Linked DNA regions of Homo sapiens: region 2 is linked to region 1. A link means that fine-mapping ties the variant in region 1 to the expression of a gene that starts in the linked region. Tissue or cell type: spleen. Region 1 holds a variant in brackets; the other region holds the start of a gene. All regions are shown on one strand. Distances are from middle to middle.

What was found. PIP is the estimated chance that this variant, and not a neighbour inherited with it, causes the effect.
Region 2: it holds the start of INO80B, and the variant in region 1 is fine-mapped to the expression of INO80B in spleen (GTEx, PIP 0.96).

Annotation. Positions count from the first base shown.
Region 1 is chr2:74,512,109-74,514,952 of GRCh38, forward strand. TLX2 (T cell leukemia homeobox 2) reads left to right here and starts at 2,342. Exons shown (of 3, transcript NM_016170.5): 1 at 2,342-2,844. The coding sequence starts at 2,699. RefSeq lists an enhancer at 660-1,328 and silencers at 1,203-1,262, 2,300-2,399. The variant C/T (reference allele first, on the strand shown) is at 1,726.
Region 2 is chr2:74,453,429-74,456,097 of GRCh38, forward strand. It overlaps INO80B (INO80 complex subunit B), which reads left to right and starts at 1,659. Exons shown (of 5, transcript NM_031288.4): 1 at 1,659-1,746; 2 at 1,978-2,170; 3 at 2,390-2,508. The coding sequence starts at 1,689. It overlaps INO80B-WBP1 (INO80B-WBP1 readthrough (NMD candidate)), which reads left to right and starts at 1,595. Exons shown (of 8, transcript NR_037849.1): 1 at 1,595-1,746; 2 at 1,978-2,170; 3 at 2,390-2,508. RefSeq lists an enhancer at 1,173-1,762.

The sequences.
Region 1 (2,844 bases):
ATGTTGGCCAGGCTGGTCTTGAACTCCTGACATCAGGTGATCCGTCCCCTCTTGGCATTCCAAAGTGGTGGGATTACAGGCATGAGCCACTGCTCCCGGCCTGAAGATTTGGACTAAACAGGTTCATGCTTCCTTGTAGCCCTCTCTACTGCTGAGAAAAGTGCATGGGTTTCTGTAAAGAGACGGGAGGTGATAATGTCTGTCTTCTCCATCAAGATGAAAATACATCTGCTAAATTGGTAGGAGCCCCCACCCTCTTTCAGAACGGGCTGTTAGCAGGGCTGAGGAGGGGCTGGACAAATTGGATAGTAGAGTGGTCAAGGTGGGGGAGGTTGACACTTTTTTTTTTTTTTCAGACAGAGTCTTGCTGTGTTGCCCAGGCTGGAGTGCAGTGGCGCGATCTCGGCTCACTGCAAGCTCCACCTCCCGGGTTCATGCCATTCTCCTGCCTCAGCCTCCCAAGTAGCTGGGACTACAGGCACCCGCCACCACGCCCAGCTAATTTTTGTATTTTTAGTAGAGATGGGTTTCACCGTGTTAGCCAGGATGGTCTCAATCTCCTGACCTCGTGATCCACCCGCCTCGGCCTCCCAAAGTGCTGGTATTACAGGCGTGAGCCACCGCGCCTGGCAGGTTGACACATATTAATGCCCACTATTCCTCCCACTGCCCTCTGTCCCATTTATGGTTCACCTCCTCTAGATATAAGGCTTCAGAGAACACTGAAGGGCTGGTGGACAGAGCTCACCCTTCTTTCTCTTCTTTATCTTTCTGCCCAGATGCCCAAATATCATTCCTGGTTCCCAGGGGAGAAAAGACCCCTTCACCCTGCCCCAGGCGCCAGGCTGCCAGCCCATCTGCTGGGGAGAAAGGAGGGGGCAGAGTCTTTCCCAGGGGATCCTGGAGAATCAGTTTGAAGATCAGTGCTCCCAGGGAGATCCAGCTAGTAGACTTACAAAGCATTTCGGTTCACACGGGAACCAGCAGGATGGAGCTGAACAGCGGGGTGGGCTCGGGACGAGGGTAGAGGGCTGGCACAGCAGGGTAAGGTCCTTTGGCCACCACGTGTCAGAGGTAGGCTGAGCTGCTCGTTGGTGCCCACCCGCCACCGCCACCGCAGGATGGTAGAAGCGCCCCCCTCTCTGAGCCCAGTCTCACCGGCTCAGAGGCGCCAGGGCCCCCCCGGGGGCCGGGGCGGGCCGGGGAAGGTAATGTAATTCCGGCCCAGCTAACCCGATTACCGCGGCCTGCACCGGGCAGGGCGGCGGCGGGGGCGGGTCTAAGGCTCAGGGGCCCGCCCGCGGGGGTCCCATCCCCGGGAAGGACGCAGAGTTCACGCACTCCCGGCTCCTGGATTCATGGCCAGAGGTCACAAGGTCACCAAGCGGCTTAGGTCTTTCCCCACCTCCCTTCTCTGACAGCTCCAGGCCATTTTTTGAGTTTGGGTGGGGTAAAATGTTTATGGGAAACAAGGCGGCCAGGATCCAACCAAGGCCTCAGTGAGGTCCCACGTGTCCCCCGTGGCGAGATTTCGCCCTCCCGCCGTTGAGGAGGAAGAGTGTGAGAACAGACTTCCTAGGCACAGAATGGAGGGGCAGAGTCCTGCATTGAGGACTCCCTGCACTTGGGGTCCGGGGGTAAGTGCCAGCCCCAAGAACCCGCCGGCCTGATTTGGCCCGGGTTGAGCCATGGTCCGTTTTACACGGATTTTGGAAAATCGAAATT[C/T]TAGGAAACACAGGACACCAATTACCGGTGCGCATGAACAGGGCTGGGGGGACCTACAGGAGAGGCCAGAAGGCGCACCACGATCGCCAGCCCAAAGCGGCCGTTCCCCGCCCTTAGCCCCTGCCGTCCCCTTCCCACACCTGTTCTCTTCCTGGGCCTGCAGCTCACCGGGCGCCGTTCCCCAGCCGCTTCTTACGCAGCCGGGAAACCACAACGAGATTTGGTCTTCGAGAGCATTTAGGCGGGGACCACAACGAATCCGGGAGTTGGCCAGAAGGATCCATCGAGAGGCGAAGAGTGGGGGCTGGGGGAGGAGGCACCTGCGGAGGAAGCCGGTGAGGCGGAGGCAGCCCAAAGGCGGAGGCCGCCCAAAGGCGGAGGCCAGCAAGGATGGAGGCGCGGTGAGCATCTCCGCTGACTCAGCGGCCCATGCTCGGGCCCCTCCCGCGCTGAGCCTGGCTCCTAACACCCTGGCCCCCTGTCCCCCTCCCCGCACATCTCCGCCAGCCAGCCTTCCCCCTGCGCTTGGCGCAAACAGGCGTCCCTTCCCCTTTAACTGCTGGGCCCCGCCCCTGCCCTACCCCCAGCCCCCACTACCCACCCGGGCCGATCCGTCAGTCACTGCCCCAGCCGGAGCTGGCCAACCCTCTCCACCCGGGACTTGGGCAGCGGCGCCGGCAGCCCAGCGTCTATTTGCGCTTAAGAGCCAGCAAGGAAGCTCCAGGGGCCCCAGCTGGCCGTGCTCCCCCGGGATGCAAGTCCCTGCGCTGACGCCCGGCAGCGGCTGGCACGGGCGCGGCTGCTCCGGGTGCACAGGGATGCTGCTGTTTCGGGGACCCCGGCGCCCTGCCTTGGCCAGCCCCGCGGGCCCCTGAGGCCACTCTCCGGAGCGCGCCGCCGCTGGGCTTCTGGCGCTGCCTGAGGCATCCTCCCCAACCACCGAACCTCCGGCGGTTCTCCTCGGCCCAGACCGATGGAGCCGGGGATGCTGGGTCCACACAACCTCCCACACCACGAGCCAATCAGCTTCGGCATCGATCAGATCCTGAGCGGCCCCGAAACCCCAGGGGGCGGTCTAGGCCTGGGTCGCGGGGGCCAGGGTCATGGGGAGAATGGGGC
Region 2 (2,669 bases), 59 kb before region 1:
GCCTGTGCCTGCTGCCACCCTAAGTATCATGAGTTCTTGATTTCCTTTATTCCTTGAAAGAGCCCTCATAGCGGTGGATCCTACTGTATTCCATCTTATAGAGCTGGATTCTCAGGTTCAGAGAGCTTAAATAATTTTAGGCCCAAGGTTGCATAGCTAATAAATGGTGAAACTGGGATTTGATAATAGGCTTGTCTGACTCCAAAATCCCTTTTCATAATCACATACTACATGACTTAATCCTGGATTCCCCAATATAATTGCTCATTGATTCTTGATAATTTTATCACTGAAATGTAAGAGACTTTTCACTGCTGTTACCTTGCTCAGACACTCATATATATTTAGATATATGTATATAGGTGTTATTTTCTAATTATAAACGTGATATATATTGGCTGTAAGAAAATACATTACATACCTAAATAGTGAAAGTTCCTCAACCCCAACTTCTACAGTTAACCAACATTAACAGGTATACATTCCTCAATTTTTTCTATGTATTTGCTAGTATATTATGCTTTTAAAAATCAGATCACATAATCTTGAAATTTACTTTTTTTTTTTTTTCTTTTTTTTGAGACGGAGTCCCGCTCTGTCGACCAGGCTGGAGTGCAGTGGCGCGATCTCGGCTCACTGCGACCTCCACCTCCCGGGTTCAAGCGATTCTCCTGCCTCAGCCTCCCGAGTAGCTGGGACTACAGGCGCGTGCCATCACGCCGGCTAATTTTTTTTTTTTTTTTTGTATTTTTAGTAGAGACGGGGTTTCATCGTATTAGCCAGGATGGGAAATTTACTTTTCTTATTTCGTGTATCAGCACATACAAACCTACCTGTTTTTATGTCTTTTTTAAAATGAGGTAAAATATACACGTTTTATACAAAATTCAAAAGGCACAAGAGGGTATAATCATAAAAAAATAGGTCGCCATCCACCCTTGTTCTCTAGATGCTCATCAGCAAATGACTCTTACCAATTTCCTAGATAGCCTTCTGGGGCGCCTCATTTCTTTTCCAAGCTGCTTAACATCCCACTGTATGGATACACCAATTCATCAGGACACTTAGATTGTTTAAATTCTGTGTCAATCTCATTAATTACTTACAACTCAACTTTTCTTAGCAATATGGTGTTCCGCATTGTACAGCTGCACCGTAATTCATTTATTCATTTCCCTACTTATGAAAATTGAAGTTTAAATACCTAAACTGCATCTGCTCTTAGGGCACTCGTGCTGTTTAACCATTTCGGCCATTTTGTCATCAATATAGTTTATGTATTCCTCCACCCAACTGTGAGTTCCTCAAGGACAGGGGCGGTGTTCATATTCATCTTTGCATCCTCTTAGACTAGCTTCCCGCACTTGGTCTAGTGTATACATTCACCAAACTTGTGTTCAATAATTGACTCATCCGCGCTGAGTTCTGAAAGCTAGCGTGGGGAGGCGGAGCCAGGGGAAAGCCCTGCCCATTTGGGCTGTCCCGACCTCAGAGGGACCGGAACGTTCGTTGGAAGGATCCTCGTTTCTCAGGGACGATTTTGGACGCGAAGCGTGCCCCGCACAAGGATGGTTGCCATGAACCGGAAGTAACTGGTTGTTTTGCTGGCTCCAGTTTTTCCGCGGGGCGGAAAAGGCGTGTCTGCGTGTGTCCCAACCATTTCTAGTCCCCTTTCCTCGCAGGACCTCATGAGTAAGCTGTGGCGGCGTGGGAGCACCTCTGGGGCTATGGAGGCCCCTGAGCCGGGTAAGCGCGAATAGATCAAGCAATTTAGGTCGTGTTAGAAAAGAAGTCCCGTTCTTGCTCCTCGGAGAGTCCAGGGTACTTCGGCCACAGGTGGCAAGGAGAAAGGCGGTGCTGTTGTTATGGTAACAGCGAGTACTGCGGGAAGGGTGGGATCCAGTAGGGGCTTAGGTTATTCAGGGCTTCCCCTGCCACCCTCCGGCCAAACACTGTCGACAGGCTTTCCTTCCACAGGAGAAGCCCTGGAGTTGAGCCTGGCGGGTGCCCATGGCCATGGAGTGCACAAGAAAAAACACAAGAAGCACAAGAAGAAACACAAGAAGAAACACCATCAGGAAGAAGACGCCGGGCCCACGCAGCCGTCCCCTGCCAAGCCTCAGCTCAAACTCAAAATCAAGCTTGGGGGACAAGTCCTGGGGACCAAGAGGTGAGGCCAAGAGGGTCATAGTTTTATAAGGGGAACTTTAGGAGCAGAGATAGTAGTTAGAAGCCGACTGGGCTTTCTAGAAGACCGAATGGACACTGTGACTTCAGGGTCCAGATTTAGGCAGCAAGAGTCTAAGAGGGTGGGGAAAGTTGGGTGTAGCTACGGAGTAGGAGGAGGAGACGCTTGCTCATTTTAAAGAGTAGTGTTGCTTCTCTGCAGTGTTCCTACCTTCACTGTGATCCCAGAGGGGCCTCGCTCACCCTCTCCCCTTATGGTTGTGGATAATGAAGAGGAACCTATGGAAGGAGTCCCCCTTGAGCAGTACCGTGCCTGGCTGGGTGAGGATCTGGAGGTGGGGAAACTGGGTTTCTTATTATACCCGCCTAAAGAAAGAAGGTTGGTTCTGAAATGGGTTAGGATTTTCCATGTCCCAGTATTAACTCAGCCAAATTAGGGTGCCCCATCTGAACAATTCTGTTTTTCTTTCTCCAACTTCCTT